Homo sapiens: one gene and its partners. The protein of the gene in region 1 interacts with the protein of each later gene in a pairwise test. Each region holds a gene or a part of one and is shown in the gene's direction. Other genes may lie near its edges. The genes, in order: NPHP4, JADE1 and NPHP1.

Region 1 (3,752 bases):
CACTGATGACCTGGCCCGAGTTGGTTGGTAGTGGGATGCTTGCCTGCCATGGATTTTCCAATTCCATCATTCCTTCTCTGTTGATTACTGGTATTTTAAGTAAGGTAGAGCTGTGCCTTCACCCCATTCACCTATTTACTTTTTATATCCTTATGAACAATGAATTTCTATTTTATTCATTTTGTTACTATCATTATTTATTTTGTTGCTCATATTCGTGCCCTGACTAACCAGGGCAGCCTCTTCAGGCCAGCTCCTGCGTCCTGTTGATTCACCCCTGTCCTCCTTTGAGTCTTTCCTTACTGCCCAGCACAGCAAGACGCCCCAGGCTCAGCTTGCATTTCAGGAGTGTCAGCTATTTAGCTCGGGTTCCTTTGGTTGGAGAATGATATTTAGAAACCAAGATTTGAGCGTTAGATGTACTCAGTACTACTGGGATGTCACTGCTGCTAAGTCCCTCTCAGCAGAGACCTAAGAGGTGTATGCCTGTGGGTGCAGATACATACATACACAATATGTGCATATCATGCATATATGATGTATAGATATGTGCGTGTATGTGCACAGACTACTGTTTCTAGTGTGCTGAAGACCATGAATTTGCAGCAGTTCTTCCAACACCAATTTAACATCACGGGTTTCTTCCTGTTTTTTTCCATGTTTGTAATTCTCATTTCTGCTCATGAGAAACCTAGCTCGCATTTGGCTTACTTATTTGCCTAATTTCCTCTGTATATAACCAATCTGCTGACCACACTGGCCAAATCCCTTTGGCTACAATACCACTGGCCATCTTTATGTACGTGTATATTTCAAAACATCAGTACCAACCAGGGCTAGACACTATCTGTCAGTGCAAGATTTCTGAAGGTGCATTTGTCTTTAGGTCCTTTGTGTCCTGTGATTTACATTTACTTAAAGAATTCTTCTCTGGATAATTACAGCACCAACTTGATAGAAGCTTAGATTTGTTTATTTTTAATACATTAACACTTCTATTTATTTTAGTTTTCAAAATTAAAAACAAGTAAGTCAAAAATCAAACTATAAAGCAAGATATATTTGGAAGGATCTTGTTTCCATTCTTGCCCTGCCCCACTCTCTCCTTCTCAGTGTGTGCAGGTGTGAAGTGTGTGCATGTGTGTGTGCATGCATGTGTGTGTGTGCGTGCATGTGTGGGTGGTGTGTGTGTATGTGCATCCATGTTTGTATTTGTGCATCTGTGTACATGTATGGATGCATGCATGCATGTGGGTGTGCATGTGTGTGTGTGTGTGTGTGCATGTGGGTGGATGTGTATGCATGTGGGTGGATATGTGTGCATGTATGTGTGCATTGTGTGCATGTGGGTGCGTGTGTGTGCATGTGTGGGCGGATATGTGTGCATTGTGCGTGTGTGCATGTGGGTGCATGCATGTGTGCATGTGTGGGTGCATGCATGTGGGCATGCATGTGTGTGCGTGTGGGGGCATGTGTGCATGTATGTGTGTGCATGTGTGTGTGTATGGGTGCGTGTGTGTGCATGTGTGGGTGGATGTGTGTGCATGTGTGTGTGCATTGTGTGTGTGTGCATGTGGGTGCATGCATGTGTGTACATGTGTGGGTGCATGCATGTGGGCGTGCATATGTGTGCGTGTGGGGGCATGTGTGCATGTATGTGTGTGCATGCGTGTGTGGGTGCGTGTGTGCATGTGTGGGTGGATGTGTGTGCATGTATGTGTGCATTGTGTGCGTGTGTGCATGTGGGTGCATGCATATGTGTACATGTGTGGGTGCATGCATGTGGGCGTGCATGTGTGTGTGTGGGGCATGCGTGCATGTATATGTGTACATGCATGTGTGTGCATTTGTGGCTGGATGCGTGTGTGCATGCATGGGTGCATGTTTGCATGTGTGTGCACGTGTGCCTGCATGCATGTGGGTGTGCATGTATGTGTATGTGTATGGGTGCATGTGTGGGTGCATGAGTGCATGCGTGTGTGTGGGTGCGTGTGTGTGAGTATGCATGTCTCTGTGGTTGTGTGTATCTTGAAACAAATATAGCCTTTTTATCAGTTGTCCCAATTAATACCTCTTCAGACAATATGGTTTTTAATGAGTAGCTCTTTTGAAACCAGGAAAGTTTCTATTTCTAACCCCTTTGGTTTAGGCACAGCCTCTTTTTGCCATCTGGAATCAAAGAGCTTGTGCTGACGTGCTTGACCGCGAACTTGGCCCTGCCACCACCCACTCCAGGACCTCCTGGCCTGACTTGCGCACATGCACACAGGGTGTCGGGAGGTGGGATCATGGCAGGAGTAGTTTTGACTTGGGACTGCAGACCTTCTCCACTGGCATTTAAGAAGTGTGCTGTACTCGCGAGGAATAATGGCAGTGTGGCTGCTTGGGTGCCCTGTGTGGGTGCCGGCCCAGACCTTGCTTAGCGGTCCCCTCCTGGTGGAGACCTGCTGCTGCAGACTCAGTCCCTGCCTTTGACGATGCCCGACCTTCCCCGCTCATGGCAGTGGAGGGTGAGGGGGTCTTGGCAACAGTGGAGATACGTGTGCTGTCTAAGGAGGGACAAGAAGCTGCTCACAAGCCTCGTGCCCATCCCAACACTCAGCGTGGCCTCCTCACAGGTCTTGTTCCGAGCGAGTGGTGGCAAGCCCATCGCCGTGCTCTGCCTGACTGTGGAGCTGCAGCCCCACGTGGTGGACCAGGTCTTCCGCTTCTATCACCCGGAGCTCTCCTTCCTGAAGAAGGCCATCCGCCTGCCGCCCTGGCACACATTTCCAGGCAGGTCCTGCACTGACCCTGCAGCCCACATGTTGCAGGCTCACCTGTTGGAAGTAGATACCTCTTGAGGGTGACAGATGGCCTCATGGCTTCATGCCCTGGTGCTGTCAGAGCAGCACGTGGGGCCTGGGGAATTCTCTCTCCTGCCTTTATGGTTTGAAACGGTGTCCCTCTTGCCACCTCTGAGATGACTAGGTGCGCATTTGCCGGCTGAGTCTGCCCTTCTAAAAAATCCCAGCTCCCGCGGCCCAGGTCCAGGTGTGCCTGGAGGAACACCTACCTCCTCACCTGACGGCCCGCGTGTTTCTGGTAGGTGCCCCTTACAGCAGAGTGCAGGCTTCCCTGCTCCAGGGAGCTGTGTTTTCTTTTTTGTGGCCCCCTCGATTATTCCCTGTGGAGATGGCTGCAGCCGAGCCGCAGTGGGCTGGATGGGCGGTGTCCATGCAGGGAACACAGTGCTTGGATGCTGTCCTGGGAAAGGTGGCGGCGTCCGTTTCCCCAGCAGGTGTCTTGCTGAGCACCTGTGACGAGCCTGTCCTGTCCTATAGTGTGTAATGTGTGGGGCCTTCTCCACACAGGCTGGGGCTGTGGAGAAGACTCTTTTTGACATTTCCCCTGCTCCAGGTGCTCCGGTGGGAATGCTTGGTGAGGACCCCCCAGTCCATGTTCGCTGCAGCGACCCGAACGTCATCTGTGAGACCCAGAATGTGGTAGGTTGTGTTGTGGCCCCAGCTCAGGCAGATCCTTCCCAGTGAGTCTGCGCCCCTGTCGGCTTCCCCACGGGTATCCTGGGATCCTCTTCATTTTAGGTTTTCTGCTAAGTGGTTTCTTTCCCAAGGTACTAAAGGGCTATTTTGACATCCTTATGAGAGCTTTATGAGTGTGTTTTTATTTTTTCTACTAGCAGATCAGCTCCTTGATCATCTGAATTTAAATTTTAAAAAGGCACGAAGCAAAGTTAATAAAGTGGATGGTAA
Region 2 (3,752 bases), on another chromosome or scaffold:
GCTCTATAATGGTCTATTCTCATGTTCTTTGTGTGTTCTTGACAGTGCTCTGTGAAGAACTGCCGCACAGCCTTCCATGTGACCTGTGCTTTTGACCGGGGCCTGGAGATGAAGACCATCTTAGCAGAGAATGATGAAGTCAAGTTCAAGTCCTATTGCCCAAAGCACAGCTCACATAGGAAACCCGAGGAGAGTCTTGGCAAGGGGGCTGCACAGGAGAATGGGGCCCCTGAGTGTTCCCCCCGGAATCCGCTGGAGCCCTTTGCCAGCCTTGAGCAGAACCGGGAGGAGGCCCACCGGGTGAGTGTCCGTAAGCAGAAGCTGCAGCAGTTGGAGGATGAGTTCTACACCTTCGTCAACCTGCTGGATGTTGCCAGGGCTCTGCGGCTGCCTGAGGAAGTAGTGGATTTCCTGTACCAGTACTGGAAGTTGAAGAGGAAGGTCAACTTCAACAAGCCCCTGATCACCCCAAAGAAAGATGAAGAGGACAATCTAGCCAAGCGGGAGCAGGATGTCTTATTTAGGAGGCTGCAGCTGTTCACGCACCTGCGGCAGGACCTGGAGAGGGTAATGATTGACACTGACACCTTATAGTGACTTAGAGAAGAAGATGCAAAGAGGCGAACGCTCGCCCAGAGCAAGAAATGATAGCCAGTCATATACTCTCAGACCCTTGTACACACCACAGCATGAGGTTGTGTTGGTTAAAAATATTTATGGGCTGGTAAACTCATTGTACATATGTGCAAAACTGCTACTGAGTGGGGAGCTTCTTTGTGGTTTTTTTTTTTTTAAAAACACTTTCCCATTAATCTTTACTGTTTTGTAAGATCAAATGGGGTGTGTCTTCCCCACCCCCATTCCTTCATTCTAGAGCTAGAGTGAATGAGCCCCAAGAAAATGACCCAAGGAGTTGACTCAGGATGGTTTACAGACTGATTTAGAAAACCAGAACGGATTTCATTTCTAATGGAGGGGGCCAGAGATGGGAAAATTTCTTGTTCAGTCCGGGGAAACACACCTAGGTGCTGGTGATGGGCTTATGAAGGAAGCTAAGCACGGCTGCTCACTGGCCCCCACTTTGTTTCTTGGGTAATTCACAGGGGAATTCCCAGTACTGTCATGGAGCAGAGCAGGCAGTGGGTGCTGATGTGTGTGCATGAGCTGTATGTACACATGCATATATCTGTTACAGAAGATACTCCTGGCAGTGAGGTGCTAAGTCATCACTGAGGCTGTGTGTGTGTGTGTGTGTGCGCGTGCCCGTGTCCATCCATGTCTCTGTTGTGTGTCTGTGTGCGGGTATGGGTGGGATTCCTGGTGGACAGGGGTGTCAGATCTGTCTGAGGAGCCCCAGTCATGCTCAGCACGCTACAGATGTGTTGTTTGTCACACTGAGATTGCTGAATGTCGTGGCTGTTGGCTGCCGAGCCTCAGCTGCTGGCATTTCCTTCTGCTGTTTGCTGCTTTTGTGCCTCCCCCACTTTCCATCACCTCTGGAGTCCCGTCTGGACGTCCCTTCCTGCTACAGGAATAATGAGGCGTGGGCTGCCTCCCGCTAGGGCCTCCTGCTCCCTGTAGGTAGTTTCTGGCTGAGGCTTGCTAATTGGGGATGCTTCTTAGAGCATCTTCCACATCAACTCCCCTGGCTGCTGGCTACCGATTAAATTCATTAGTGTGAAAGAGGTGGGAGTGAGGTTTTCTGGCCTGAAGCAGTCTGCACTGAAAGGTACCCAAGTGGCCTGAAACAGTGTAGGGAAAGACCTGGGAAACACTGGACCAAAAAAGCCTGATCTCATGGAGACCTGCATGGCCCTGTTAGAGATGGCGTAGAAGTGAAAGTCTTAAAGGGAGCATTAGAGATCCTTTTAATACACGACTGAGTGCCAGCTTATTTGTGATGCCCCTTCCCAGACCAGGTTAGGATTCCTGGGAAGGCCGCGGATTCCGGCCCTGGAAGAGGCAGGATCCTGGAGCAGTTTTGTGAGGCTTTTGTGCTCCCATACGCCCCCTGGTGGTGAGTGTAAAGAAGACTTTGCCTCTCACAACTACATGTATGTGTGGCATTTTTGTTAGAGATGAGAAAAGGATTGAGAAGGATAAACTGGAATCCTGGTAAGAAGCCTTTATGCCAGCCCGACACCTGCTGTAATTGGGGTGCATGAGCTATGGAGTCAGATAGTTGTTGGGAGGGGGAGGACAAGAAGTCTATTGTTTGGACTGTGTTTGTCTCACAATCACCACAAAATAAAAGTGTAGAAAATGCTTGTGGTGTACTAACTCTTTTCTGTACTTAAGTTACTCAGATTAACATGCACTTCTAATTCTAAACATTTTTTTTGGAGTCATCACTGTCGCTGTTTAAGTAGAACAATGCCAACGATGTATGAGAAACAGGGAATAAATCAGGATTTGTGTGTGTATGTGTGTGGCATTACTTACATTTACTTTATTAAAAAGCCTAAGGAACTTTAAAGAATTTGTATTCAGTTTATTTTTATTTTTTCAAGACAGAGTCTCACTTTGTTGCCCAGGCTGGAGTGCAGTGGCGTGATCTCGGCTCACTGCAGCCTCCGCCTCCCGGGTTCAAGTGATTCTCCTGCCTCGGTCTCATGAGTAGCTGGGATTACAGGCGTGCGCCACCATGCCTGGCTAATTTTTGTATTTTTAGTAGAGACGGTTTCACCATGTTGGTCAGGTTGGTCTTGAACTCCTGACCTCAAGTGATCTACCTGTCTTGGCCTCCCAGAGTGTTGGGATTACGCCACTGTACCCAGCCTTAGACTCAGTTTAAAATGGGCTTATTGTAATGAAAAAAAATACGCTACCCAAAATTTGCCATGATGCCTGTGATGGTGAAGGCATTAAACAATTGAAATCTTTGCCTTGCCCAGAGAGTTGCAGTTATTTGTAATTATAAACAGTAAGTGTATCAGGGCAGGGGTGACAATAAAAAACCAATCATTACTACCAACTTGTTTTCTCAAGTAAGTTAGTTTTCTGTTTAATTCACACAATATCAGTTTATAGCAGATCCTCAAAAATCATTTAATACCTGTGACTACAATCAAGGCATATGATCATTCTCAGACTGACAAATAAGTAGCCATCATTAGAAATGCAGACAACTGAGTAATTATGGTGACTGCTCTTCCTTCAGACACACACCTCGGGGCATTGCATACCTGGGTACCAGTTCTGGATCTGGAAGTTAGGTGACAGGAGTAGATTTCAGGAGGGCTTGGGAGCACACAACTTTAAGAAGACACAGTTGCTGATGTGGTGGGTAGCCATGTCATTCCCAAGGCTGCCACTTCACTCTCATTCCTTTCCCCTAAAAGATGCAGTAAATGTGAGTTCAGCAAATGAGTATTTATTCAGATAAAGACGTGCTACCACTGCACTCTGGCTAGCGTTATGGAAAGTGGCCAAGTCCTGGGGGCAGTCCTGTAGTCACTCAGTGGAATGGTCACCTTTGAAAATCTGGTAGTGGCTACAGTGTCCCCTGAACAAAAGGCACGTTCAACTTTAGTGCTGCAAACAGTTTTGGATTCAAGAAAACACTGAAACCACTTTTAGATGTCTTAGAGCAGTGTATCTCAGGGTGTTGTCCCTGACCCAGAAACTTAGGAATGCAGATTCATGGGCCCCACCTCCAAAGGGTGGTTCTGTTTTGTGGGTACCCCATGTTTCTGTTTGGGAACACTGCTTTAGGGGAAAGGGATGATCAGGTTTAAGGTGGTGTGAGAGTG
Region 3 (3,752 bases), on another chromosome or scaffold:
CTTTAGTTTCTTTTGGCTACCTCACTGCAGATCTCTCTTGTTTTAGGTTATGTTGTTTTTTATAATGGCATCAAGGTATAACTACAGAGGAGCAATGACTAGTATTAATGTGACTGTCCTGAATATTACAGTTATTAGTGAAAAATCATTAGCTGAGTAATCATATCATTTATAGCACACTGAATACCTCAGTGGTACTTCTCAAACTTGAATGTGCACATGAAACACTGGGGTATTGTTAAAATACAGATTCTGATTCTCCTAGGACTGTGGTGGGGCTGAAAATGTGAAAATGTGCATTTCTAACAAGGTCCCAGGTGGTGATGATGCTGATCTAGGAATCGCAAGTAATGAATACTTGTAACCGAAACAATATGATGCAAAAATGTATAAAGTCAAACATCTTCACACCTGAGGTGAATGAGTAATACACTTTTTTTGCACCTTTCCTTATTGTTCATATATTCACACATATTTAGGGGGGGTTATTAGTTTATTTTTACCAACAGAATTAAACTGTATCCATGATGCTATTAACTTTTCCATTTAAAATGTGGAAATCCCTATAAATAAGTAGATGCAGAATAATTTTTTCTAATTTATTTGTAGACTGAGAATTTCATAAGTAATAGCTGTATTTTAGAGCAATTTTTTTCGTTTTGCTCATCTCATCACCTGTAATTATTGATTTAATAATCCACTTAGAAATATTTTATAGCATTTTCTCATTTGTTGTAAAGATTTTTAATGGAAATCCTATGTTTGACTATTTAAGTGAACTAATTATCATAAGCCATAATAGAGAAATTAATTCAAAATAAGACATGAATTACAACAAAACAGACAATACCAAATCTTGCCAAGGACATAAAGAACAAAAACTCATACACTGCTGATAGGGTATAAATTAGTACCATTTTGGGAAACCAGGTAGTAGTATCTACTAAAGCTGACGTATAACATGCCTGTGACTCAGCAGTGTTATGTGTTTGCCAGAAGACTTGCACCAGGACGTTCTTAGCAGCGCTATTTATACTAGCCCTAAGCTGGAAACTGCCCACTTACCCAGCAACAGTAGAATCAGTATGTTAGGGTATATCATATGTGAAATATCAGCAATGAGAATGAACAGACTACAGACACACACAGTATAGATGCATCTCACAAATGTGATATTTAAAGGACAGGAGAAGCCACCACACAGTGCATAATTTCATTGTATAGTACAAAAAAAGGCAACACAAGTTTGTGCTCTTATAAGTTAGGATATTGTTCACCTTTGGTGTGTGGTAGAGAAGTGAGAGGGTTGAGAGGTTGGGGGTAGGCAAGGACTAGAAAGACAGGAAGAGTGTGAGTGGGCAGATAATGTTCTGTTTCATAATCTGGGTGCTGTTATGGGGTGGAGGGTTTTCAGAGCTGCACACAAAGTCTGTAGACTTTTCTCTGTATGTATTATACTTGAAGAAAAAAGTACATAAATAATGGTTCATCCTGGCCTGTGGCTGTTCTGAAGAACATTCATTTGTATTAATGGGGTCCATCATTTGGAAGGTGAGCCCCAAGCATCATCATTCTTATTCAAGTTCAATTTTGGTGTAGTGGAGTTTTGGAATTGGATTCATGGGATGCAGTCCCATATGGGGGAAACATGACAACCTTCCTGAGAGTTGATGTAAACTGGGAATCATAATGAGAACTAATAATTTGCTCATAGATTTGCTGTAGAACAATTACCATCCTTACAGAATTCAGAATTGACAACGTGCAATATTAGAATGAAATGAAACTTCAGTAGCCTAAATGGCAAAGAATTAAAAACTGCCTTTTGAAGTGACAGTATGGAACAGAACCATATATTCCATAGGAAAGCTATCCTTGGAGTTAATGAAAGAGTTTAAGATACTAAAATTGTATCTTAACATTAGCTTACAAAATTGGTATCAGAAAGCAAATGCCATAAAACAGGTATCCCAGCAAGAAGGTGGTGTTATTATTGATGTATTGTGGGGAATGTAGTTTCAGACGCCGGGGGACGTTCCCCTATCCTTAGGAATTGCCGAGGAAAAGTGACTCCCCCGGCTGTGACCTGCCTGGTGGCGTGGGATGACCACCGCAAGAGAACATTTGACCCTTCCCGGGACCGGCCCGGGCGGGGCGGGGCTGGGAGGCGGGCGCACATCGATGGCGTCACCTTCTGGCGCCGCCGGTTGGTTTCCCTGGCAACTGGAGCAATCAGAGCACCGCAGCCAGGGAGATGCTGGCGAGACGACAGCGAGATCCTCTCCAGGCCCTGCGGCGCCGCAATCAGGAGCTGAAGCAACAGGTATGGTCAGGCTGTGCAGAGGGCCCTGGGGCGGGCGACAGGCGGACGCAGCTGCGCGCACTGCGCCTTCCCACCGTGACCCCACCTAATCCTGGGAGCTTGCCCCCAACCTACTTACCTTCCCAGGTTGTAACGCCCCCTTACCCCATAACATTCCAGCACCCAACCCCGATTCAAACCCCTCCTGATCCCAACTCAACCCCCAGCCAAAGGCGAAACCTCCCAAAATTCGTGACCATCAACTAAGCGCCCCCTCCTCCGACCCTCACTCCCACCTAACGTCTCAACCTCCTACCCTAACAACTCACTAACCCACCTTATCTCCCAATCTAAACTTAGTGGTGTAACCATTTCCAACCCAACTCTGAGCCTAGCTCCTCTCCTCCACTTTCCAAGCCCATTTCCTTTCAGCCTTCCTCAAGTGGAGATTATTATTGCCTCCGTGAACTCAAGCGAAATAGGTGTCAAGAAATAGTCTTAATATGCAAGAACATTAAGATCTGATAAATGAGCAAAGGAGGTGAACGAGAGAGGAAATACAAGTAACTCATAAACATACGAGGAATGTTAACTTCAAAGATACTCAAGTAATTGCAAAGCACATAAGGTATCACAAAAATGTTAAAAATCACAACACTCTGTCTTGAGGAAGGTGTGATGAAGCAGGCACATTCACTGCTCCCGTGTATAAGGTGCTTGTACAGCATTTCAGGAAAGCAGCTTGACAAGGTGTAACATATGTGTATGCACCTAGGCTCAAAAATTACATTTCCAGGGATCTGCTATGTGTAATAATTAGAAAGTAGGACAGAGATTGATGTATAAAAGTATTCATCACATTGTTACTTATATAATATACACAGAACAGCATAGAAGGGAACAGGCTAATATGGTATTTCTGTGTGACAGGATGCTGATGATTATTATGATTTTCTTTATTCTTTTTCATATTTATAAAAATTTTTAGGCCAGGTGTGGTGGCTCATGCTAGTAGTACCAGCTACTTGGGAGGCTGAGACAGGAGGATCACCTGAGCCCAGGAGTTCGAGACTAGCCTGGGCAACATAACAAGACTTGGTCTCAAAAAAAAAAAAACTTTTTAAAAATACACTGAGTTCTTATTAAAAATAAGAAAAAAGTAAATAGCAACCAGTGGGTTTATTTTCTGACATTTTAATTTCACTTTAATTTTTTTCATGTGATCTATTACCAAGTATTTTTCCACTGAGTAAAATTATTTTATAATCTGAGGCCGGTAAGAGATTCACTGATGCTCATATTTTATCCATTTTTGTTCTCTTGTTTAAAGTAAAAAGGATTTGGAAGGTAAATATTTAGGTGACTGTGTATTGGAATCACAGTGGTGCAACAAAAGCTAAATACTCTTCTGGTAGAAATAAAAAATAAAACTTGATGGGGCATTGACTTA

Evidence for each region.
Region 2: the proteins of NPHP4 (region 1) and JADE1 interact in binary tests that used the Homo sapiens proteins (3 or more experiments, as listed by UniProt).
Region 3: the proteins of NPHP4 (region 1) and NPHP1 interact in binary tests that used the Homo sapiens proteins (3 or more experiments, as listed by UniProt).

The regions. Positions count from the first base shown.
Region 1 is NC_000001.11:5,866,763-5,870,514, reverse strand, and holds part of NPHP4 (nephrocystin-4), read left to right. Parts: intron 1-2,618; coding exon 2,619-2,775; intron 2,776-3,399; coding exon 3,400-3,485; intron 3,486-3,752. UniProt on the Homo sapiens protein: Involved in the organization of apical junctions; the function is proposed to implicate a NPHP1-4-8 module. Does not seem to be strictly required for ciliogenesis. Required for building functional cilia.
Region 2 is NC_000004.12:128,861,659-128,865,410, forward strand, and holds part of JADE1 (protein Jade-1), read left to right. Parts: intron 1-45; coding exon 46-567; coding exon of another isoform or gene 568-594; exon of another isoform or gene 595-2,974; intron 2,975-3,752.
Region 3 is NC_000002.12:110,203,471-110,207,222, reverse strand, and holds the start of NPHP1 (nephrocystin-1), read left to right. Parts: upstream 1-2,209; 5' UTR 2,210-2,254; coding exon 2,255-2,323; intron 2,324-3,752. UniProt on the Homo sapiens protein: Together with BCAR1 it may play a role in the control of epithelial cell polarity. Involved in the organization of apical junctions in kidney cells together with NPHP4 and RPGRIP1L/NPHP8. Does not seem to be strictly required for ciliogenesis.